Homo sapiens: one gene and its partners. The protein of the gene in region 1 purifies or fractionates together with the protein of each later gene. This does not show direct contact. Each region holds a gene or a part of one and is shown in the gene's direction. Other genes may lie near its edges. The genes, in order: NFYC, XBP1, PON1, KLHL22, SSBP1, PON3 and CORO1C.

Region 1 (3,500 bases):
AAAAGAAGGCGCTCATAATGTCCCTCTATGTTGTGCTGACGAAAAAAAAAAAAAAACAGATATTGCTTGGGGCTGTGTTTCATGAGAGCACTGTTAGAGGCCATCCTAAGCTTTTTCTAAAGCCCATTAATTCTTTGAAGACCTGCATATGTTAAGTAAAGAAGAATTTTGCTCTGGAGCTTGTATTTTCTTCATTTCATCTGTACCTTCTCTCCCGACATACGCTTCCTGAAGAGAGGGACCAAGCCAGAGTGTTTCCTACTGCCTGTCATGCTTTGCCACACTGTTGATTGTCCCCACCATTTATGCATCTCTTGTTGTTCATTTCAGAAAGACTTCCGAGTGCAGGAACTCCCACTGGCTCGTATTAAGAAGATTATGAAACTGGATGAAGATGTGAAGGTGAATTCACATTCATTTTTATTATTTCTTATTGAAGCTAAGTGATGGGTAGGTTATTGCTCATTTCTCTAGAGCTCAAAGTTTAATTAAACAAGAACACACAAAAATTACTGTCTGTTGCTTTGTTATTTGGTTCCTGTGCAAAATTGTTAAGTGAGCCAAAATTGAGCAGTTTTGGTTACTATATGGATCATCCTGAAAATTTTTTAGATGTTGAAAAAATAGTTGATGTTGGGTTTTTTTTTTTTTTTTGAGAGTTTTACTCTGTTATCCAGGCCGCAGTGCAGTGGTGCGAGCTTAGCTCACTGCAACCTCTGCCTCCCAGGTTCAGGCAATTCCCATGCCTCAGACTCCCGAGTAGCTAGGATTACAGGCGCCCGCCACCACACCTAGCTAATTTTTGTATTTTTTGTAGAGACAGGGTTTCACCATGTTGGCCAGGCTGGTCTTGAACTCCCGACCTCAGGTGATATGCCTGCCTCTGCCTCCCAAAGTGCTGGGATTACAGGTGTGAGCCACCGCATCTGGCCTTTTCTTTCTTTTTGAGACAGGGTCTCACTCTGTCACCCAGGCTGGAGGGCAATGGCATAATCACGGCTCACTGTAGCCTTCACCTCCCAGGCTTAAGTGATCTTCCCACCTCAGCCTCCCAAGTAGCTGGGACTACAGGCACGTGCCATCATGTCTGGCTTAATTTTTAATGTTTTTTTGGAGTGGGGGACAGGATCTCACCATGTTGTCCAGGCTAGTCACGAACTCCTGGGCTCAAGCAGTCCTCCAGCCTCAGCCTCCCAAAGTGCTAGGATTAGGCATGAGCCACCATGCCCAGCTGGTATCTCACAGTTCTGTTCACAGTGTAGTATATACATGTATCATCAAATCAACAGGACAGTGCCATCATCTTAGCGTCTTACATAGTTTGTTGATCTGAACTCTTAAGAAATTTTTGATAATGATATTCTACCTGTTCTAACCTTTTGATCTATGAGTTTCTTTTACATGAATAATACTTGTGAGAGGGTTTGCGTGGGCTTGGCCATTTCTGTATTCCTAGGAGTCCATCTCCATTACAGATCTCAGAGAAAGAGGAACTCTGTCTCTTTACCACTCAAAATTAATAGTCTTTTGTATTTTCACAGAAAGCTAACAATTGATAGTAATTTTCCCTTTTATTAGCTCCTTTCTTCCTCACAGTAGCCCTGTGAGATTTGATATAATAAGAATTATCAGTTCCATTTTACAGACAATGGAAATAGACACAAAGAGGTTAAGTGACTCACCCAGAGTGATAGGACCAAGATCCCATTTCCCATCTGCTGCTTCTTTAACTCCAGAGCTCTTTCTGTGGCTGTATCCTGCACAGACTACCTCACCAAAGGTTTAGAACCTTGTTTGACCAAGAGCTTCAACTTTGAAATCAGACACATCAAGAAAGTTTATATGGCTTGAGCATTTCCTATATGCCAAGCCCTGGGCTGGGTACATATATTATCTCATTTGATTGCCACAATAAAACTGAAAGGTTATCCTCTTTTTCAGTACATGAAAAAGCCCAAAAGGATGGGAAGCCTGCAATTTTATCCAAATCCATTGGCTTTCAAGCTCATTCTCCTTCCTCATATTGTTTCTCCTTGGATTAGAACCTAAACCCTGCCACTTACTGGCTCTATGGCTGTGGGCAAGTCACTTCATCTCTCTTGACCCCTAGTTTCTTTGAAAGGCTATTATAAGAGTAAGAAAACACCTTGCACAAGGTTTGGCGCATGGTATGTGCTAGATAAGTATTCTTTCTCCCTGTTACCTGCTTTGTTCCCACTCATGGATTTATTTTACCTTGGAATCTCTTGAGTATACCACCTCATTTTTTGACCCTTGCCCCATAGTCCCATGCCAGGCAATGAGGCAAGAGACAGACTGGTTTGCATGACTTGCTGGTGATTGACAGGGAGGGCCTGTGTCTGTTACAGATGATCAGTGCAGAAGCGCCTGTACTCTTTGCCAAGGCAGCCCAGATTTTTATCACAGAGTTGACTCTTCGAGCCTGGATTCACACAGAAGATAACAAGCGCCGGACTCTACAGGTATTATTGCAGACTTAGATTAGGAAAACTGGGGTAAGCAGCAGCCTTTGCCTGTTTTCCTGCGTGGTGTTGGAGAAAGATTGTTCTCCTTTAGGACCAAAGATTGTTCTCCTTTAGGACCAAAGATTGTTCTCCTTTAGGCCTCTATCAAGCTGACGTGTCATTGGCATCACCACTGTTGGGAGGCAGACATACCTTCTAGCCATGGTGATTGTGTTTCTCCACCAAAAATCTTAATCAATTCTCTCCTGGTTTTCACAGCTTAGTGACTGAACTCTTTTCCCTTGGTGAGCCCTCACTATAAACAGAGGCTCAAGTGATAAGAGTATTTACCTGTTTCCAAACGTAATCAACTTCTGGTTGGGAGCCTTGAGAGATTCCAGGAAGTATCATCAGTCTCACTAGCTTCATTAGGCTTTTTGTTCCTTGTCAGCCTTCCTGGGAGTCCTTTTCTTTTTCTTCTTCTTTTTTTTTTAATTTTAATTTTTAACCTAGCGAATTCACATTCATACTGTATGCAGAGCCCTTGGTCATTGACTCTAGAAACCCTCACCCTATAGCCAAGCCCTGGCTCTTAGAGGAAAGATTTCCCAGATACAAGAAGAAGAGTGTAACAAGTATAAAACAGTGGTGGCAGTATTTTAACAATGAAGCCAAGAAAGTAAATTATTTTCTCTTCTTGTTTCCCTTTACCTACAAAGTAGAAAATGCATGTGTTTATTCATTTATTCTAAAAATACTTACTGAACACCCACAATGTGCCGGGCACTTTTCTAGGCTCTGGGGATTAACGATACACACAACAGACAAAAATCCTTATCTGTGGGAAGCCTGCATTCTAGTACAGCTTGTCAATGCGTCATAAAGTTAGGATTTGTGTACATTACTATATGAAAGTTTTAAAGCAAAAAAAGCAAAAAATACTGAGCTCCAATAAATGATATGCATGTTGAAGTCACAAAATTTATGTTGCCTTGAAGTTAGTCTGTGGATCCAGAGAGATCCAGTTAAAGCTCC
Region 2 (3,510 bases), on another chromosome or scaffold:
ACCTCAGGTGATCCACCTGCCTTGGCCTCCCAAAGTGTTAGGATTACAAGTGTGAGCCACCGAGCCTGGCCAAGATAGTTTAAAAAAAAAATTATATCTACATTAAAGCCACAAGTCACCCTTTGCTGAAGTCAGTATTAGTAGTTGGAAGCAGTGTGTTATTCTTGACCCCATGAAGTGGCACTTATTAAGTAGCTTGCTTTTCCATAATTATGGCCTAGCTTTTTAAAACCTACTATGAACACCACAAGCATAGAGTTTTCCAAAAGTTCAAGAAGGAAAGGAAACCAATTATACTGAATCAGGTAGATTCTTAACTGAAATAATTAGATGTTTTAATAGCCTCTTATGAACTTTCTTCCAGAACCAAAAACTTTTGCTAGAAAATCAGCTTTTACGAGAGAAAACTCATGGCCTTGTAGTTGAGAACCAGGAGTTAAGACAGCGCTTGGGGATGGATGCCCTGGTTGCTGAAGAGGAGGCGGAAGCCAAGGTAAATCATCTCCTTTATTTGGTGCCTCATGTGAGTACTGGTTCCAAGTGACATGACCCAGCGATTATGTTTACAGTCTGGACTTCTGATCAAGAGCGTTCTTGAAATTTTCCTTCAGTTTTAAGACATTTTCATGCAGGCAGAGTGTTCTTCCCCTAAAGGCACTTGACACTCATTTTTTAAGTGTGTAGTGAACAGTACTAAGATCTAATAATGAAAACAAGTTACATGGCTCCCTAAGAACAAGTACTAACAAATGCAGTAGCCAACAAGATTACCATGCAATCATTAAGGAGAACCAAAGTAAGAGAGCCACTCAAACCAGATTTTGAACGCTACTAAAATTAAAGTAGTTCTTTGATGAATATGAATGAGTAGGGAAAGGATTCTTTGTAATAGTGATACCTCTGTGGTAAGAGAAGGGTGGTATGTGAGTTTTAGTCTACAGATTATGGCAAATTCAGTGACAACAATCAAATGGTCTAAGATTGACAGTAGCACAGTTTTACTCTGTGAAGGTAATGTTCAGGACAAATTTCAAGAAAACTAGAAAACCATTCTTTACAGCTGAAATCTTTCCCTAACCATTGTTATTTCCACTTTTAAGTCCTCAAGAGATGAGAAAAGGGAGGTAAGGCTTCCTTATACATTTCCTGCACAATGAAACATTTTTCCTCCTCCAGGCAAAGATTCAAGCAGAACTGGCAAATATCTTATCTTGCTCTTCTCAATAATAATAATGTTGTTAGATAATAAAGTTCTATAGCAATTTAACCCTAGAATCTTTTTGAAAAGTAATTCTTTAAAGTTGAGAATCACAGCTGTCTAGCAAGCATTTCCTTGGGCACTTGAAGCTGTTTATTCACTTTGGTCTTTCCTCCCAGGGGAATGAAGTGAGGCCAGTGGCCGGGTCTGCTGAGTCCGCAGCACTCAGACTACGTGCACCTCTGCAGCAGGTGCAGGCCCAGTTGTCACCCCTCCAGAACATCTCCCCATGGATTCTGGCGGTATTGACTCTTCAGATTCAGAGGTAGGGATCATTCTGACTTATTAAAGAGCTATATAACCAGTTAATTCCATCTGTTTGATGCTTGACATCCCTAACTAGACAGATGAGGGTTGAAGTTAGTTTTTGGTGGGGTTGGAGGTGAACATCAACTACCTTCCTAGTTCCAGGTAATATAGAACATGGAGTGAAGTGTAGATAAATGGGTCTGGTGGGTCCCGAGGTCATCTTATCACATAATGACTAATTTACATTATGGAACCCAGTACAAAGTGTTCCAGTTAGATTTTCCATTGTATTCTGACAGTTGTACTTCATTTAATTTTTGCCTCTTACAGTCTGATATCCTGTTGGGCATTCTGGACAACTTGGACCCAGTCATGTTCTTCAAATGCCCTTCCCCAGAGCCTGCCAGCCTGGAGGAGCTCCCAGAGGTCTACCCAGAAGGACCCAGTTCCTTACCAGCCTCCCTTTCTCTGTCAGTGGGGACGTCATCAGCCAAGCTGGAAGCCATTAATGAACTAATTCGTTTTGACCACATATATACCAAGCCCCTAGTCTTAGAGATACCCTCTGAGACAGAGAGCCAAGCTAATGTGGTAGTGAAAATCGAGGAAGCACCTCTCAGCCCCTCAGAGAATGATCACCCTGAATTCATTGTCTCAGTGAAGGAAGAACCTGTAGAAGATGACCTCGTTCCGGAGCTGGGTATCTCAAATCTGCTTTCATCCAGCCACTGCCCAAAGCCATCTTCCTGCCTACTGGATGCTTACAGTGACTGTGGATACGGGGGTTCCCTTTCCCCATTCAGTGACATGTCCTCTCTGCTTGGTGTAAACCATTCTTGGGAGGACACTTTTGCCAATGAACTCTTTCCCCAGCTGATTAGTGTCTAAGGAATGATCCAATACTGTTGCCCTTTTCCTTGACTATTACACTGCCTGGAGGATAGCAGAGAAGCCTGTCTGTACTTCATTCAAAAAGCCAAAATAGAGAGTATACAGTCCTAGAGAATTCCTCTATTTGTTCAGATCTCATAGATGACCCCCAGGTATTGTCTTTTGACATCCAGCAGTCCAAGGTATTGAGACATATTACTGGAAGTAAGAAATATTACTATAATTGAGAACTACAGCTTTTAAGATTGTACTTTTATCTTAAAAGGGTGGTAGTTTTCCCTAAAATACTTATTATGTAAGGGTCATTAGACAAATGTCTTGAAGTAGACATGGAATTTATGAATGGTTCTTTATCATTTCTCTTCCCCCTTTTTGGCATCCTGGCTTGCCTCCAGTTTTAGGTCCTTTAGTTTGCTTCTGTAAGCAACGGGAACACCTGCTGAGGGGGCTCTTTCCCTCATGTATACTTCAAGTAAGATCAAGAATCTTTTGTGAAATTATAGAAATTTACTATGTAAATGCTTGATGGAATTTTTTCCTGCTAGTGTAGCTTCTGAAAGGTGCTTTCTCCATTTATTTAAAACTACCCATGCAATTAAAAGGTACAATGCAGCATCCTTGTTTGATTTCTTCTAGGGCCGTAAGTCTTGTTTTCTCTCCAGATGTTTATCTGTGTGCTGTGGTAGGAATTAATCCAACTGAAGTGAGCCTAACGCTTTTTAAAGTGACTGAAGGCTTTTCCACCTTAATTACTGCCTGCTTTAATTCTGGACTGCCATAAGTGATATAAGCTATAATTTGAGCAGTTACTGTCTTTCTGAGACAGATTCTTGAGCCTAACTGACCAATATCACAGCTAGTAAGTGGAAGAGCTAGAACCCTAACCACTATTTGCTACACCATCTTATAAATGTTAAACAAGGACACACCATCACATATCGAGATTCTCTTGCCCTTATTATGGGAATTAAGAGCATTTTCTAGACTGAAACTCCCTATTTTCAACTCTGCCACTGGTAAGCTGGGTAACCCAGGGGTTATATATAATCACTTATTTCCTCATCTGTAAAGTTGGATAATGGTATCTCTAAAGGTTAAGATTCAAAGAGACG
Region 3 (3,500 bases), on another chromosome or scaffold:
CTGAGGAGATGGCAGAAGAGGGGAGGGAGAGCCAGATAAAGCATTGAATAAAGGTAACTTTTTTTTAGAAAGGCTCTGACAGGACTTTGCAATTACCACAAGGCTTCTCCTTATGCATCTCTCTTTTGATATTGGACAGGAAAATTTTTTCCAGAAGCTCTCAGCAGATTTCCCCTTAGATCTTATTTGTCAGAGCTGGAGGACAGGCTGGTGCCCTAGTTGCAAAGGATGCTGGGAAAGTAATTATCAAGCCTCCAATGTGGGAGGCAGGCCCTGTCAGCAAAGATAAAACGGTAGGAGAATAGCAGCTGGGAGGCAACCAACAAGGAGAGTCCCCGGGCTCAACTCTCCAGCTGGTTCCAACCAACCAGCTTTGTTATTTGAAGACAATTGGTTTGAGATCATGCTTTTGTGTGCTTTGGGTGTTTCTTTTTCTTTCTTTTTTTTTTTTTTTTTTTTGTTCTTTTAGAATTATTCATCTCAGTTGATTAAGGCTCAGGAGGCTAGATCAGATGACTTAGTACCACTAAATTTCACTAGATATCTTATGGTGCGATTGTTTTCTAGAAAAATATGATATTGATATCAAATATCACTGGGTTTTTGAAAAGCAAACTTTCCACTAAGTGTAGAAATACCTATCAAATAGTTCATTTTTCTCTAGATAAATTGAAATGTTAAAAATTTACATGTACTTAAAGTATAACTAACTTGAAGACAGTAATATTTAACCGATGTTTATAATTAGTAGTAAAAATTCATATTCTTGATCACCTAAAATGTATCCCCATTTTAACTCAACTATTTGGAATTTGCTTATATCTTCAATATGGCTTTCCAAGGGTTTAATTGATTTGGAAGTATTAAGTATCAACATATATTTGTAATTTACCTTGTATCTTTAGAAAACAAGTTCTTTTCAAATAATCATGGCTTTTGTACGTTTTGTGAATTTCCATGAACTTTAAGAGGATTCAGTCTTTGAGGAAAAAGCTCTAGTCCATCAATTTAAAACAAATATACTAAGTGTAAATTTTAATTAAACTTGTTAATGAATTAATATATTTTTAATTTCCATATAATCGCATTCATCAATTTGAATAAATGAAAGAATGAATTATTCTGAACCTATTAAAGAAGAGTGATGTATAGCCCCAGTTTCAAGTGAGGTGTGATAAAGAAATGGATCCACATCCTGCAATAATATGAAACAACCTGTACTTTCTGTTCTCTTTTCTGGCAGAAACTGGCTCTGAAGACTTGGAGATACTGCCTAATGGACTGGCTTTCATTAGCTCTGTGAGTGTTTTCTTTCACTTTTCTGTGTTCTAGAACGTTTTCTAGGACTGGCAGTTTAAGTCTTTCACTTAGGCTTTCTGTATACCCATGCCCACTTTCAAATAAAATGAACAGTCATGGTTTAAAAGACAAATTGTGTATGCATTTACACTTGTGCTATAATTATGATCATGCGTGTTCTATGCATATTTGTGTTCTTCGGTCTACATTGAACCATATTACGTTAGCTTCTATTGCAGCAATTTTTTTGTGAGTTCAGTGTATTCAAGAATTGTTTTCCTCTCAATTGTCTATTCCCTAAGCACTTAAAATTGCCATATTCAAATATTTGCTAAATTAAATATACATTTAATGTATACTACTTCACAGGTCATTTCAACTTTCACATTTTTAAACAAATTTCAGAATAAGCCCTTTAATTTAAAATTGTTGATAGGTCCCAATTCCCAATTCCCAAGCTTTGAAGACAGAATCCACCATATTTGCTGAAACTGTCCTGCATATAGATCGCTATGGTAGCTGATATAGTGCAAAACAAAAGAAGTCCACCATCTGGCCTAGGGATCATAACATAACAGAGTTGATAGGAAACGACAGACAATCATCCAGCCATTTAAAAACCTTTGCTACCCCTTGTAATTTACTTAGTCCAGTTTTCTCTTACAAAGATGATAGACTAGTCATCCTGCAAAGCAATGTCTTGCAAACTTTCTTGAGCAACATAAGGTGTATTTCAAGCAAAATCTTATATGGGAACACAATATATAAAACAACAGCTTTATTGTTTTGATTGAAGGCTAAGAAAGGAGTAGTTCCTCTGGCCCACCAAAACTCTGTCTTTGAGATGCTTCCAAGGACCTACCAGGGAACAGTTTAAAAGCCATAAGCAATATTCTCTCTGTATTCCTTGCTTATATCATTGAAGACTATTATTAATTGCCTTTTTGGTCTGCTCTTCCATTTTTGATCTTTCTCATGGGCTGGAAGCTGTAGTGTCGTGCACATATGACTTTGCTGCAGGGGATGAAAGGGTTTGTGTGGGGTGGCCTAGTGGAGCATGTGGCTTCCAGAAGACTTCTCCTGGGGACCCATTACAGAAGCTAACTAAGAGGCTTCCTATGTGGCCATCTGGCTAGCCCTGTGGTTTGGAGCAGTCAACATGAACCCATGGGCCATGCAGCGCCTCTATTAGCATTTGAAGTACTGGTATTGTGCTTGATTTTTCTCCTCCATGGTTTATAAGGGATTAAAGTATCCTGGAATAAAGAGCTTCAACCCCAACAGTCCTGGAAAAATACTTCTGATGGACCTGAATGAAGAAGATCCAACAGTGTTGGAATTGGGGATCACTGGAAGTAAATTTGATGTATCTTCATTTAACCCTCATGGGATTAGCACATTCACAGATGAAGGTAACAATATTTACTATTTATTAAAACCAAAACCAAACTTAAAACAAAAACAGAAAAACATGCCAATAAATGAATTATTTTTTCTCATTCAAACAAAGCATAGTCATGAATAATGTTCTTACTCTGGGTTTTAAACTTACCCTCTATGTTAATTGAACTTTATAGTAAAACCACTTAAATACTTGAGAATGCTAAAATATTTAAGATTTGTAAAGCATCTAATTTTGTAAAATACTAACATTCACATTATCCCTATAATTACCATAATAATAATATCCAGCCCTGATCATTATAGCTTTTCCATTTTAAACGATTTTCAAGACTCGGGCATTTACAGGAACAGATTTTTCTAACCCAAGGCATCTGTAAGCTATAGGTCCAGTGACAGAAAGTCACCATGGTCAGCTTTCTGCCGGTCCCATTATCTTCAATGCCTCCTGTCCGCTGGTTCCTCTGTTCTGTGTTCAAAATGCTCCTCTGCATGTTGGTCCCTTTCAACATAACTTGGTGTCATCCTTTATGTCTTTACTCCCTTTCTCCCTTTCCATTTGCTGTCACTTCCTTGTCTCTGTATTAATTTTCAGCCCCAGTTGCACAATGGTAGCACCTGAAGAGTTTAAAAAGACTCGATGCCCAGCCCCCAGCTTGACAGATTCCAATTCCGTTAGTCTGAGGGAGGCCTGGATCACAGTAGTTGTTAAAAGTTTTTCAGTTGATAAAAATGTCAGGCTAGGGTTAAGAACCACGTTTATACCCATTACCTCCATTTCATCATCAGACGATCCCTCA
Region 4 (3,500 bases), on another chromosome or scaffold:
CAGGGGCATCTGCATATACTGTAGCAGGCTGGGCAAGGAGTCTTTCTGCTCTTTCTTGGCATGCTTCACCCAACTGATGACAGCCTCAAAGACTGGTTCTTCAGGATCCACCTGAATTTCATCGCACTTGATTAGCTTTTCCACCTCTCCTTGCCTCAGAAGAATGAACTCTTCATGCTGTACCACTTCAGGAAAATTCTTCTGGCTAAAAACCTCAGCTGCTTGTGTCAGGTCAACACAATTGTGGGTTTCAGCAAAATCCCTAATACCCAGGCAATTAGAAGGGTCCAACTGACTTTCTAAGAACTCACAGCAGGCTTGTTTCACACCTTTCAACTGAAGCAGACAGGCTGCAGGAAGCAGTTCCTGTACATTCTCCATGTCACATGTACTGTTTCCGTGTACACAAAGTCCAATAAAATTTCCATGGTAGAGGCAGTCAAACCTTGGATGTCAACATAGGGTTTCCCCTTCTATAAAGGTCACTAGTGAACATGGCACAGAAGTAATCACTACAGGCAGCCAGCACAATCTCATGGGCAGGAAAGTCTTTCTGCTCTACTCAATGTCACATCACAGAAGGTATTGCTCTTCCCAACGGAGTTCATTGAACTGAGGATTGATTTAGCATGAGTATTTGTCATTATGTCTTTGGGGGCCATAATGCCTCCCATAAAGCAGTGCGGAGAAAGAACAAAAATAGGTCCTTGGATTCTGCAACTCTGCTTCTGATCCCACACAGCCGCGCCAGGGCCTGTCCCCAGCCTGTGGGGATGGAGTGGGGTGCGGGTCCAGCAGGTGGCTCAGGAGGAGCCGAAGCGTCGCCGCCGCCGCCCCGGCCCGGAGGCTCTGGAGCTGTCCGGGTCTGCTCCCTGCGGCCACGCGACGTGATGACCAGAAGAAAATCTTGAGGATCTAGCTAGGGCTAGGCAAGGAATTCTTAGACTTGACCCCAAAAGCATGAGCCATAAAAAGAAAAATTGATAAGCTGGACTTCATCAAAATTAAAAAATATTTGCAAACCACCTATCTGACAAAGGACTAGTATTAAATAAATACATATATAAACAACTCTTAAAACTCAATAAACGGCCAGGTGTGGTGGCTCACACCTGTAATCCCAGCACTTTGAAAGGCTGAAGTGAGCGGATCACGAGGTCAGGAGTTCGAGACCAGAGACCAGCCTGGCCAACATGGTGAAACCCCATCTCTACTAAAACTACAAAAATTAGTTGGGCGCGGTGGCACACGCCTGTAATCCCAGCTACTTGGGAGGCTGAGGCAGGAGAATTGCTTGAACCTGGGAGGCAGAGGTTGCAGTGAGCCGAGACCGTGCCTTTGCACTCCAGCCTGGGCGACAGAGTGAGACTCCATCTCAAAAACAAAAAACCTTGGCAAAATACTGCAAATAACCCCATTAAAAAGAGGGCAAAAGAAGCCGGGCACGGTGGCTCACACCTGTAATCCCAGCACTTTGGGAGGCCAAGGTGGGTGGATCACGAGGTCAGGAGATTGAGACCATCCTGGCTAACACGGTGAAACCCCATCTCTACTAAAAATACAAAAAATTAGCTGGATGTGGTGGCGGACGTCTATAGTCCCAGCTACTTGGGAGGCTGAGGCAGGAGAATGGTGTGAACCCAGGAGGCAGAGGGTGCAGTGAGCTGAGATTGTGCCACTGCACTCCAGCCTGGGCGACACGGCAAGACTCTGTCTCAAAAAAAAACAAACAAAACAAAACAAAACAAAACAAAAAACAGAAGGCAAAAGAGTTGAAGAAACATTTCACTGAAGAGGATGTATAGATGGCAAATAAGCATATAAGGAGATATGTAACATTATTAGCTATCAGGGAAATGCAAATTAAAGCCACAGTGAGAGAACTACCTCAGGATGACTAAAATAAAAAGTAGTGAAAATACGAAATACTGGTGACTGTGCAGGGAAACTATGCTCATGGATTGCTGATAGGAATGTGAAATGGTACAGCCACTCTGGAAAACAGATCTGGCAGTTACCATCCTGGGTATTTATCCCAGAGAAATGAAAACTACTCTGTATACGTTAGCCAGGCATGGTGATGCGTGCCTGTAATCCCAGCTACTCCGGAGGCTGAGGCACAAGAATTGCTTGAACCCGGGAGGCAGAGGTTGCAGTGAGCCAAGATTGTGCCACTATATTCCAGCATGGGCAATAGACCAAGACCCTGTCTCAAAAAAATAAAAAATAACTTATCTGTACATGAATGTTAATAGTAGCTTTATTGGTAATAGCCAGAAACTGGAAACAAATCAGGTGTTTTCAACAGTGAATGGTTAAACAAGCTGTGGTAGATACCCATGGAATACTACTGAGCAATAGAAAAGGAACCAACTATTGGTACATGTTGAGTACCCTTTATCTGAAATGCTGGGGACCAGAAGTGTTTTGGATTTCAGATTTTTTCAGATTTTGGAATCTTTGCATTATAGTTACTGGTTCAGCATTTCTTATCCAAAAGTCTGAAATGCATTTCCTTTGAGTGCCGTGTTTGTGCTCAAAAAGTCTCAGATTTTGGAGGTACTCAACCTGTACATGCAACAACCTGGTAGAACCTGGGTTGGGGTAGAAAGCCAATGTCAAAAGGTTGTATACTGATTTAATTCAGACAACACTCTTGAAGTTACAAAACTGTAGAAATAGAGAAGAGATTGGTGGTTTCCAGGGCTTAAGGAAGGGATTAGGGTAAGGGAGGTGAGTGGATGTCACCCTAAAGGGCAGCCCCTCGGGATCCTGGTGGTGATAGGACAGTTCTGTGGCTGTGTCCACGTCAGCATCCTGGTGACCCTGTGATATAGTGACACAGGCTCCTACCATGGGGGAAAGAAGGCACGTGAGACCTCTGTATTTTTACTTCCAACTACACGTGACTACACTTATCTCAAAATGAAAAGTTTAATTAAAAAGAAAAACCTCGGCTGGGCGTGGTGGCTCATGCCTATAATCCTAGCACTTTGGAAGGCCGAGGCAGGTGGGTCACGAGGTCAGGAGATCGAGACCATCCTGGCCAACATGGTGAAACCCTGTCTCTATTAAAAATACAAAAGTTAGCTGGGTATGGTGGCGGGCGCCTATAATCCCAGCTACTCGGGAAGCTGAGGCAGGAGAATCATTCGAACCCGGGAGGCGGAGATTGCAGTGAGCCGAGATCGTGCCACTGCACTCCGGCCTGGTGACAGAGCGAGACTCCGTCTCAAAAAAAAAAAAAAAAAGAAAAACCTCCCCAGACCCCTACTGGTGATAGGAGAAGACCCAAACCAAACCCTTGGTGTGTGTTCTTCCTCCCCACTGCTCCGTCCACCTCTCTAGACTCTTGTGTTTTTGCCACCCGCATGGCCTCAGTGTTAGTGACTTGCCCAGTAACATAGCTCTGGAGCCTCCACACCCTGAGGGGCTCCTCTACCCTCAAAACACCCAGGGCCTTGCCTTGGGGCCTTCTGTTGGCCTGCTGGGTGTGAGTG
Region 5 (3,982 bases), on another chromosome or scaffold:
TTTATGAAGTGTTTAGTGGGTACAATAATGTCCTAGACCTTCATGTTGGGCCACCACTCACTCATTTACTCACCCACAGCAACTTCCAGTTCCGCAAGCTCCATTCATGGTAAGCGCCCCATACAGGTGTGCCATTTTTATCTTTTATACCGCATTTGTACTGTACCTTTTCCATGTTTACATATGTTTAGACACACAGATACTTACCATGAATTACAATGGTCTGCGGTATTCAGTACAGCCCCATGCTGTCAGGTTTGCAGCCTGGAAGCAGCAGGCCACACCACAGAGCCGAGGTGTGTCCAGGCTCCACCATCTAGGTCGTCAAAGTACATTCTGTGGTGTTCGTACAGCAACAAAATCGCCTAATGACGCAATCCTCAGACCTTACCCTGTTGTTAAGGTACACATGACTCTTATTTTGTTCCTCCCGGATTTCCTGCATTAATTTTTACTTTTTAAAATATTACATTAATATATTATTTGATTGCCAGTTTTTCTGGTGCTCCCTTAAATTGCACAGCCTGCCAGCCCTTCCCTGGCTCCCCTTTCTTTTTCTGCTTTTCTTAGTGCTTCAACAGACCTGGGACGTTCTTTTTCTTTCTTTTTTTTTTTAATTTTCTTCTTTTTTTCTTTTTCTTGTTTTGTTTTGTTTTGTTTTGAGATAGAGTTCGCTCTGTTGCCCAGGCTGGAATGCAGTGGTGCGTTCACGGCTCAATGCAGCAACGACCTCCAGGGCTCAGGCGATCCCCCGACCTCAGCCTCCGGAGAAGCTTGGACCACAGGCGCGCGCCACCACGCCCAGCTAATTATATATTTTTTGTAGAGACAGGTCTCACTATGTCGCCTAGGCTGGTCACAAATGTTGCTTTTTTTTCCCTCCAGGCAGAGCTAGTCTCTGTTTTGCCTACCTCGCCCCCTCCTGGGCCCAGTTAGAAACCTCATCACATAATTTCATTTCTTTCCAAACTTGAAACCTTCTAAACTTGAAACCTTCTAAACTTGAAACCTTCCAAACTCACCACTTGGCGGCGTTGATCCATCCGCCCGCGCACAAAGAGAAGATCGCGGAACTTCAGAGTTAAGGGGAGCCGTTTCCCGCAGCGCTAGCCGGCAGTATTTCCAAGGCGCAAGTTGCGGAGTTTCTGTTTCCTTTTTCCTCTGGCGAGCTTTGCGTTCCCTGTGCGCCGGAAGTGATCCCCTGCGTGGCTGGGCTGCTCGGGTTAGATCGTCAGGTGAGGGAGGAAGGGATAGCCAGCGCGAAGGAAGTGCTGGAGTCGTGTGTTTTGGCTGCGCGTGATCCTGCGTGGGTCGGGAGGTGTTTCTGTGTAGGTGTCTGGCCCTTTCATCAGTCGTGCGGAGGACCGCGTGATTTCCTTCCAGTTCTCCTCGGTTTTCAGGTGGTGGCGCCATCTTCGGTAAAGGGTGTCCACCTCTCCCTATGGTGTGGCTGGCTAGCCCGGGGGTCTCTACGCTGCTTGGTCTTTGTTAACGGAGATGAAGGCAGTAATTTTTCAGTAACAGGTTTCAGATATAAGTCCCTTGGTGATGCTAATATTTATGGAGGCCTTACTATGCATTAAGAACTTTTTTAGAAGTTTAGAAAATGGCAGTGAATAAAGCAGATACAAATCTCTGCTCTAAGGGAGCTTGCATAGTAATGAAATTTGAGAAGACAGTGGATTGGAAGTGGGATTAACTCAGAATCAAAATTTTGTCGATGGGTTGGAGGAAGAGGAAGTTATTTGGGACCAAAAAGACATACAGGTGTGAGTTTATTTGGGAGGGAGGAAGGAATCCTCATCAGATGTGCAGGAATGTTGGTACGTTGTGGTCACAAAATTGGAGTGCATAAAAATTATGAATATAGTTAGGAATTTAGGACTGGTGAGTTGTACTTTTGCCATAAGAGGTAATGTTTTTTTCTTATTTTGTTTTTTTCCTTCAGGAAAAGCCTAAAGATTAGACTGTAAGAAAAGAAAATAGAAGCCATGTTTCGAAGACCTGTATTACAGGTAGTCACTTGTCTGTATTAATACTGAGATGTATTACTATCAGCCACAGTGATCAGAAGACTTCTTTAGGCTTTTAACTACAGGGGCAAAAGACCTTTGAGCTCACCCACCCACCTCTATACTCATTTGATATGGAGGATTGGGGACGATTTTGCCAGTGTAAATTATGTTCACTAAAACAAAAAAAAAGTTCAGGTTTATTCACACGTAATAGGAATCATTAATTTTTAAAATGTGTGTGTGTTGCTTGAATTTAACCAGTGAGAGGACATTAAAGGTCTTTAGTGACCTAAAGACTGTAGGAATCATTGTTCCAACTTTTTTCTTAAGGCATGTAGTTGCTTTTTTGACCATCTACCTCCTGTGTTGCTAAACGTTCCTCTTCCCCCATCTTTCCACACTGAAGAGAGCATCTCAAGTCTCAGTGGTCACCAGAGATTTCACTATGTAGAAAATGCCTTCTCATTCCACTTAGTATGGGTCCTCACTTTTCCAGACACTAGCCCACCTTGAGCCAGCTTAGACTACCATTTTTCCTCACTTACCACATTCGGGCACCAGCTCCTGTAGATTCTTCTTTGGCTCTCCTACTCCCCATCCTCCTGTGAAGACCAATGAAGAACCAGTTCCTCCATGACTCTGTCATTTTCCCCACCTTAATCCTATATTCTTGGATCCCCACTTTAACCTGTATGTATCTTTAATCTATTTTTTTCTGTATTGAAATGTGAAACATGAAAAAGTTATTGCTTCTTAACACTAACGTTACAGTATTAAAATGTCTTTAAATAAGAGTTAAAAGTTTAATTTAAAAAATTATCCAAGTTAAATAATCCTTTCCTAATCTTCTCCAGTAGATTTTTGTGTGCCCCAAATGAGACATTGTTATTATAAATCTCTGTGTAAGATTTATGAGGTCTAGCTTGTCTGAGCACTCAAATGACATTTCCAGAATCATGACACAGGTTCTCATTAGCAGTTTGATTCTATAGTATGTTGTACTCATATCTTTATTTTCTTATCTGCCCTCTGCTCCTAAGTTTAGTGATAGGATTAGATAGCCAACAGCACCCTGGGGATTGGTGTTTATTTGATTGGTGGACTTCTGCTTTTTATATTAACAGTACTGCCACTTCAAAAATGTTTCTCTGATAGAATGGCTAGCTCTCTGAGCTCTGAATTCAGTGATGTGTACTCCCATCTTTACAGGAGCTCTTGAAATTAAGGAGGCAGCAGAGGGCTTCGGGAAAGCAGTAGCATTGGTGTCAAGGGCCCTGGGTCCTTGAGATCACTTGCCACATACTTCCTGCAGGAGCTTGGGCAGGTGATGCAGTCTCTCTGAGGTGTTTTCTCAGCCCTAAATGGGAATAATTTTACATAACTTGTAGATTTAGTTTTAGAATTGATAATAGATAAATCCCTTAGCTGATATTCAGTAATGATTGCTGCTATTATGTGGTAGTGACTACCTTTGCTGACAGTGATGTGACTTTGACTTGGACAGTCGAGTCTTTGTGTTTAATCAAAGAACCAAATTTATTAGACCTTTTTTGATGCACTAAAAACAGGAAATTTCCTATGAAATATTTATAAAAACTGTATTAGGCTAAGCTCACTACTGAAGCTGTTTAATTTTTGCAATAGCCTTGTGAAGTAGGTATTATGTATCATAATTTTTGCTTATTTTAAAATGAAACACTTTAGATTAGTCATATTAGGTATCCTAATTCCTTTTAAGGTCTGAAGGAGCAACCAGGGGAAGGCAGTTTCATAGACACAGGGAATCTGACTTTGGAATATGTTCCTGTTGCTGTGTCAGAAAGTCATTCATGTGATTAGTTTTAGAATGTATTGTTTTGTTGGAATGTAACCTATCTCTCGTTCTCTAAACCAGCAGACCCCAACCTTTTTGGCACTGATAACTGGTTTCATGGAAGACAATTTTTCCATGGAGGAGGGGGGTGCCG
Region 6 (3,500 bases), on another chromosome or scaffold:
TGTATATGTGTGCACACTTGTTCTTTATTTTTAAAAGGGATTAAAATATCCAGGCATGCCAAACTTTGCGCCAGATGAACCAGGAAAAATCTTCTTGATGGATCTGAATGAACAAAACCCAAGGGCACAAGCGCTAGAAATCAGTGGTGGATTTGACAAAGAATTATTTAATCCACATGGGATCAGTATTTTCATCGACAAAGGTAAAACCTGTATGTTTAGGGATAAGGGGGAAATGAGGGAAATAGAAACCATTTATCTCCAGCCCCTCAATATTTATGTAACAGGAAGAGAGAAGATGCTATTTTACCATACAGATGTGTTTTTTTTAAATGATAAATAGGTATAAAACCTTGTAAACATTGCATTAAAGAAGGAACACTAGTATTTTTGGCCCTATGTGGCCTCCTCCTCTTCCTTCTATCCACTTGTCTTCTTGTTTGACTGTCACAACCTGTTTGAATACTGTTCTCAGAAATCTAACATGTAAACTAAAGGCCCTTTAGTTTAGTTGTCACTAAAGACAACTGTGAGACGTTAAAAAACATAACATAAGGGGGAAAAAAACAAATTAGACTCATCAAAGTTAAAAGCTTTTGTGCTTCAAAAGACACCATCAAGAAAGTGAAAAACAACCCAAAGAATGAGAGATAGTATTTGTAAATCATATATTAGATGAGAGACTTGTATTCAGACAATATAAATAATTCTTACAACTTAACAAAACACAAATAATGTAATTTAAAAATGGACAAAGTATCTACCTAGATAGACATTTCTCCTAAGATACACAAAGGCCTGTAAGCACATGAAAGATGTTTATCATCCTTAGACATTAGGAAACTACAAATCAAAACCAGAATGAGATACCATTTCACACCCACTAGGATGGTGATAATTAAAAAGACAGACAATAACAAATGTTGGCAAGGATGTAGAAAAATTGGAACCCTCATACTTTGCCAGTGGGATTGTGAAATAATGTAACCACTTTGGGAAGGAGTTTTGCATTTCCTCAACATGTTAAACATAGAGTTACCACACAATCCAGCAACTCTGCACCTTGGTGTATGCTCAAGAGAATTGAAAACCTATCCATGCAAAAACCCATATACAAATGTTCATAGCAGCATTACTCCTAATACAAAAGGTGGAAATAACCCAAATGTCTATCAACTGATGCATTCATAAACAAAATGTGATAGGTATTTATACAATAGAACACTATTTGGCAATAAAAAGAAATGAACTACTCATGCATGCTATAATATGGATGAAGCTTGTAAATATTATGCCAACTGAAGGAATTTAGTCACTAAAAGCCACACATTATGTGATTCCATTTATATGAAGTGTCCAGAATAGGTGAATTCACAGACAGAAAAATTGTTGGCAGGAGCCAGGGGAGTGGGGAAGGAGGAATGACAGCTAATGAGTAGGTGATTTCTTTTTGGGTGATGAAAATGTTCTGGAACTAAATAGTGGTTATGGTTGCACAATTCTGTGAATATACTAAAACCCACTGAAGTTTACATTTTAAAAGTCTGAATTCAGTGGTGTGTGAATTATATCTCAAAAATATATTATAAAAACATAAGTTATCAATATACCATATATGCTTTAAAAACAATAGTTTCCAATATTATTTTTGACTTGTTCACAGTTCATAATTTCAAACATTTAATTTTAAAATATTTTTGGGTCTATACAGCATGAAGAAAATTAAGAACAGGGAAACTTCACTAACAGTAACCACATGAAAGGAGGACCAAATTGAAGTGCTAGAATTCCATGAAATCTTATATACACTTTTATTTGCTTAGCAAGCTCTGCTTTAAAAGATAATTGAATCTAACAATTTTTCATTGGTTTATAGTATACAAACTATTTTCATATATAATGGTGTCTTTACTTCTCGAAATAAAATCCTGGGCCCAACCTTGACACTTCCTCTCCCTGGCCCTTTTGATCAACTCATTATAATGTTTTGTTTAATGTATCTCTCCAATATCTCTCCAGTCTGAAATATCTGTCCATCTCTCCCCATCCTCACTGCTACCAGCAGTTCAAGGCCCCAGCATGCCTTCCCTGATTCTGCATGGGCCCCCAACTGTACCTTCCTTCTCATACCACCTCAATTCATTGTCATAGTAAGGATTTCTTTTTATGCAAATCTGATTATGTCCCTCTTTTCATCAAATTTTTCATATTGTTCTGTCACTCTGAGGATAAACCCCAAATCTCCAGAACGGCCTGGGTTCCTGGGTGCTTCCCCTGTACCTTCTGGCACCTGTATGCTCTCCAGTTTCACTGGAAACCATTCTCCTCCAGACTCTCTGGACCAGCCATACTGGATTTCTTTTCATTCAGTGAAGTGTCTCATGCCTCAGGATCTTTACATCTGCTGTTCCCTCTGCCTGGAATGTCCGTCTGCCACTTCTGGCTCACTCTTTGTCATCATTGAAGACTCAGCTTAAATATCATCTTCTCAGGGAAGCCTGCCCACCATCTTGTTCCAATTTGTGTACCTTTCTATATTTCTTCTCAATGTACCTCTTTTTTAAAATCATTCATTACGGTGGTAACTAATTTTTTTTTTATGAGATGAAGTTTTGCTCGTCTCCCAAGCTGGAGTGCAGTGGCACAATCTAAGCTCACTGCAACCCCTGCCTCCCGGGTTCAAGCAATTCTCATGCCTCAGCCTCCCAAGTAGCTGGGATTACAGGCATGCGCCACCATGCCCGGCTAATTTTTTGTATTTTTAGTAGAGACAGGGTTTCACCATGTTGGCCAGGCTGGTCTCGAACTTCTGACCTCAGGTGATCCACCTGCCTTGGCCTCCCAAAGTGTTAGGATTACAGGTGTAAGCCACCACTCCCAGCCTACAGTAGTAACTTTTTTTTTTAAATGTTAAAGGATAGGAATTTTCTTTCCCTCTCCTGCTCTTGCTCTATAGCAAGTTCCTAAACTTAACTGTTACTCTTCAAATGAATGACACTCTATGAAGAACGTGTCTCCCCACTCTAGTATTCTTTGTTTTAATTTATTTAATAATTTTTCCTCCTTGTTTTCCTCTCTCAAATATAATCACCATAAAAGCATATTGATTTGTCCATTGCTGGATTCTGAGAGTCTAGAACAGTATCTGATGCACAGTAGGTACTCTATGAACACATATCAAATGAATAAATAAACGAACCCTATAGGACAGGCAGAGCACATAGTAATATTCAACTTTATAGATGGATACAATGAAGTTTAGAGGAATGCAGTGAAGTGTGACTTCACTTCTGCAATTAGTAAATGGCTGATCCAGAACTCAGACAGAGGAGGTCTCACTTCTAATCCTGTGTCTTTTACTAAAATGAGATTAGGACTCTATTTAAATAATTTTAAAACTGCAACTGTTTTGCCTCACACTGTACAAGACATAAGATTCTGCATTGGAGATGGTATAATAAGTGATTAGATTTACCTGAAACTATTTCATTGCATGGGAT
Region 7 (3,500 bases), on another chromosome or scaffold:
AAAAAAATAAAATAGGGTAGGCGCAGTGGCCATTCCTGTAATCCCAGCACTTTGGGAGGCTGAGGTGGCTGGATCACTTGAGGCTGGGAGTTGGAGACCAGCCTGGCCAACATGGTGAAACTCTGTGTCTACTAAAAATACAAAAATTAGCCACGGGTGGTGGCATGTGCCTATCTATAATCCCAGCTCTTGCCAGGCTGAGGCAGGAAAATCGCTTGAACTTGGGAGGCGGAGATTGCAGTGAGCCGAGATAGCACTACTGCACTCCAGCCTGGGCGACAGAGGGAGACTCAGTCTTTAAAAAAAAAAAAAAGAAAAAGAAAACAGTAACAAAGGAGAAGGGCTTTCTCATCATTGTCATGAAATCACGCTGATGTATGCGCGCATTATGTTGTCAAATCAGTGAAATTTTGTGAGTTGGATCTCATTTAGCATCCCTGTTGCTGTTTCCATGTATGAGTATTGTATGTGCATAGTTCAAACTTCTGTTATTCTAGGAAAATGGCTCGCTTAATTGGGATAGAAGAATATATAATAAGGTTATAAAAATTTATTTTTAAAAAAATGTATACATACACATATATGTATTATTATTATCTTCCCCCCAGAAAAATATGCAGGAACCAATTGCTCTTCATGAGATGGACACTAGCAATGGGGTGTTGCTGCCTTTCTATGACCCTGACACCAGCATCATTTACTTATGTGGAAAGGTAAACAGTAATTTTGATGTTTGGTGTTAAATCCTGTAAGTGGAAACATTTATCCTTCAGAGATTTAGAGGACGGGCAATGTGTTGTATCTGTTTAATTTTTCTAATTTGTGTGTGTATGTTATAAGCCAAGGACAGATAATTTGGTATTTTTAGGTCTTGAGACTGGACTGTGTGCAGCTTGCCAGTTGTGCAGTGATAACACGCCATGTTGCATACTTTTGACTGAAGCAGAGGTTGGGCTGGGGTATTGGGGAAAATGCTCCAATCAGGGCGCTCTTGTGAAAAAAAGAAGATACACTGGTGTTTCATCTTCACCTAGCAGTGCTACCTGATTGGTGATTTTAGATTTATCTGTACTTATGTCAGGGATGGGCAACCAGTTGGCCACATCTAATGCTGAAATTTGTTGGATAACCCTAGATGAGCATGTGTATACTTAGTACCACACACCATGGACTTGGAAGGAGAATGGTGCTTTGTGGATGCAAACTTTTGAGGGCCTCAGAGACTCTCCAGAGGGTTCTTGTTCCTGGGGTTCAGTGCTAGGGCTCTGGGCTTGAAGATATGAGGCCTGACTAAAGCTCAGGGGTGATAACAGTTATAGGGAGACTCCACACTGAACTCCAAAAACCTTCCTCCTGCCTTATGAGCTCAGCATACCTAGACTGTGGGTAGCTTTATTATTTCATTTTTGTAAGTGGGAACCTTATAGTTCCCTTTTTTTTCTTGTAGGCTCAATTTCCCTTAGAACTTTTTGTAGTTGAAATAAATGAATTAATAACAGTGGAGCTGTTGAGGTAGTCCCTAGACCTGTTAGATAGCCCTTCACTGGGTGGTAAAGCTGGTGTTTGCTTTTCATAGCTGATTGAGCATGCTGCAGACCTGCTTTACATTTTTATAGGTCATTGTTTTAGAAATGGAGATCTTGTCTGTTTCCTTGAAAGCCATTTTACTGCAGATGTTAACAGGTGTTAAGTGCATTTACCTTGCTGTTGTTGCCCTTGACTGAATTAAAACAAACAAAATGAGCAGTTACTCAGATATTAGTAACATGAGATGGAAAATTCTTTTGGGCATGCAGAAATGACTAGTAAGGGTTTAGCTTCTTTTCCATTGCTTTAGATATCTCAGTCATTGAGACAAATGGAAATCATGAGAACTGGGAGCACTGTTGAGGCATGATACCACCTAGCTATTTTTGCCTTCTTCTTTCTTACATATATGTATATCTCCTCTCTGCCAGACAAGATTGCCGTCATTGTTCAGGTTGGTGTAACTGTGTGACAATTATTTGTACTTAGACTAACATATGCTTCAGTACTCAAAGATATCTGACTATTCTAAGCAAGAAAGTAGTAGAATTGTACACATTGCCATGAGATGGCACTTTCTGAGGATACTCACTAAAACTGAGTTTCTTCATTAGAAAAATCTCACTTTTTATCATCATACTGGCATAACAGCATTGCGTTATGCCAGTAAATGAATACTTAAATCAATAATTGCATTCTCAGCAGTCCTCTTAGTCTTTGTTTGTTTGTTTGTTTTTCACAGTTGAATTGCAATGTAGCTGTTTGGCAGAGGCATTAACATTTTTGCCCTAACCCTGGCCTGGTGCCTAGGCTCAGGGGAGTAAAATTAGAGCCAGGAGCCAGGAGGCTGAGGAGACCACTTAAAAGGCATGCTAGCATTTGATAAGTAAGGGGTTACTTTGTGAGGAAAAGAAACTTTTATATGCTTTAGGCAAGCCTCTTTATGAGGAAGAAAAGGTCAGCTACTGAAGCGGGGTCCCAACTACTGCTGGGTTTGTAGAGGAGAGAGACACCCCCATAATCCAGATGTTTCAGTTAACAATCAGACACAGACTTGTCTCTGGTTTCTTACAGGGTGACAGCAGTATTCGCTATTTTGAGATCACGGATGAATCCCCGTACGTCCACTACCTCAACACATTCAGCAGCAAGGAGCCTCAGAGAGGGATGGGTTACATGCCCAAGAGGGGACTTGATGTTAACAAATGTGAGATTGCCAGGTAAAGAATCGAGATTGTCAAGTATTCTAGGTTGGTGTAACTGTGTGACAATTATTTGTACTTGGACTAGCATATACTTCAGATCTCAAAAATATCTGACCATTCTGAGCAAGAAAGTAGTAGAATTGTACACATTGCCATGAGATGGCACTTTCTAAGGATATCACTAAAACTGAGTTTCTTCATTAGAAAAAAATCTCAAAAAAAAAAAAAAAAGAAAAGAAAAAAATCTCACTTTTTTTTTTTTGAGACGGAGTCTGGCTCTGTTGCCCAGGCAGGAGTGCAGTGGTGTGATCTCAGCTCACTGCAACCTCCGCCTCCCTGGTTCAAGCAATTCTCCTGCCTTAGCCTTCCAAGTAGCTGGGATTACAGGCGCCCACCACCACACCCGGCACATCTCACTTTTTATCATCACCTGAATGCCTGGTGATACCAGAGCAATACAGCTACAAGAAATTCTATGAAGCCCAAGTCTTTCTATCCTTGTGTGTACTGTGGAATTAATACCTCATTTCCTGCCCATATAACTGAAGTGCAACAATGAAGCAGCATAGCTGGGGTGTATTGCACACCTACTGAAATAGTGAAACATGCATCTTTAATCTTCAAGCTGAGGCCATGGTCAGCGTTCCCTGGTGGGCAAGTAGGGAGAGCCTGGCTCGGGGATGGAAAAGTGGGTGGTTTTCCTACCCTATGAGTGGAAGAACCAGAGTCAAAACTGTATTTGGGGCCCCACTGGTCCTAAAATAGAGA

What was found.
Region 2: the proteins of NFYC (region 1) and XBP1 purify together in Homo sapiens (affinity purification with western blotting, with the first as the bait; one study listed by BioGRID). This does not show direct contact.
Region 3: the proteins of NFYC (region 1) and PON1 purify together in Homo sapiens (affinity purification with mass spectrometry; 2 studies listed by BioGRID and IntAct, with this or other methods). This does not show direct contact.
Region 4: the proteins of NFYC (region 1) and KLHL22 purify together in Homo sapiens (co-immunoprecipitation; one large-scale study listed by IntAct). This does not show direct contact.
Region 5: the proteins of NFYC (region 1) and SSBP1 purify together in Homo sapiens (affinity purification with mass spectrometry; one large-scale study listed by BioGRID and IntAct). This does not show direct contact.
Region 6: the proteins of NFYC (region 1) and PON3 purify together in Homo sapiens (affinity purification with mass spectrometry; 2 studies listed by BioGRID and IntAct, with this or other methods). This does not show direct contact.
Region 7: the proteins of NFYC (region 1) and CORO1C fractionate together in Homo sapiens (co-fractionation; one large-scale study listed by BioGRID). This does not show direct contact.

Annotation. Positions count from the first base shown.
Region 1 is NC_000001.11:40,747,204-40,750,703, forward strand, and holds part of NFYC (nuclear transcription factor Y subunit gamma), read left to right. Parts: intron 1-330; coding exon 331-402; intron 403-2,369; coding exon 2,370-2,483; intron 2,484-3,500. UniProt on the Homo sapiens protein: Component of the sequence-specific heterotrimeric transcription factor (NF-Y) which specifically recognizes a 5'-CCAAT-3' box motif found in the promoters of its target genes.
Region 2 is NC_000022.11:28,794,060-28,797,569, reverse strand, and holds the end of XBP1 (X-box-binding protein 1), read left to right. Parts: intron 1-364; coding exon 365-493; intron 494-1,377; coding exon 1,378-1,416; coding exon of another isoform or gene 1,417-1,442; coding exon 1,443-1,523; intron 1,524-1,837; coding exon 1,838-2,395; 3' UTR 2,396-3,010; downstream 3,011-3,510. UniProt on the Homo sapiens protein: Functions as a transcription factor during endoplasmic reticulum (ER) stress by regulating the unfolded protein response (UPR).
Region 3 is NC_000007.14:95,314,533-95,318,032, reverse strand, and holds part of PON1 (serum paraoxonase/arylesterase 1), read left to right. Parts: intron 1-1,243; coding exon 1,244-1,299; intron 1,300-2,542; coding exon 2,543-2,711; intron 2,712-3,500. UniProt on the Homo sapiens protein: Hydrolyzes the toxic metabolites of a variety of organophosphorus insecticides. Capable of hydrolyzing a broad spectrum of organophosphate substrates and lactones, and a number of aromatic carboxylic acid esters.
Region 4 is NC_000022.11:20,447,296-20,450,795, reverse strand, and holds part of KLHL22 (kelch-like protein 22), read left to right. Parts: intron 1-3,500. UniProt on the Homo sapiens protein: Substrate-specific adapter of a BCR (BTB-CUL3-RBX1) E3 ubiquitin ligase complex required for chromosome alignment and localization of PLK1 at kinetochores.
Region 5 is NC_000007.14:141,737,176-141,741,157, forward strand, and holds the start of SSBP1 (single-stranded DNA-binding protein, mitochondrial precursor), read left to right. Parts: upstream 1-1,182; 5' UTR 1,183-1,235; exon of another isoform or gene 1,236-1,418; intron 1,419-1,431; exon of another isoform or gene 1,432-1,823; intron 1,824-1,948; 5' UTR 1,949-1,991; coding exon 1,992-2,015; intron 2,016-3,982.
Region 6 is NC_000007.14:95,368,876-95,372,375, reverse strand, and holds part of PON3 (serum paraoxonase/lactonase 3), read left to right. Parts: intron 1-37; coding exon 38-203; intron 204-3,500. UniProt on the Homo sapiens protein: Has low activity towards the organophosphate paraxon and aromatic carboxylic acid esters. Rapidly hydrolyzes lactones such as statin prodrugs (e.g. lovastatin).
Region 7 is NC_000012.12:108,651,519-108,655,018, reverse strand, and holds part of CORO1C (coronin-1C), read left to right. Parts: intron 1-608; coding exon 609-713; intron 714-2,601; coding exon 2,602-2,747; intron 2,748-3,500. UniProt on the Homo sapiens protein: Plays a role in directed cell migration by regulating the activation and subcellular location of RAC1. Increases the presence of activated RAC1 at the leading edge of migrating cells.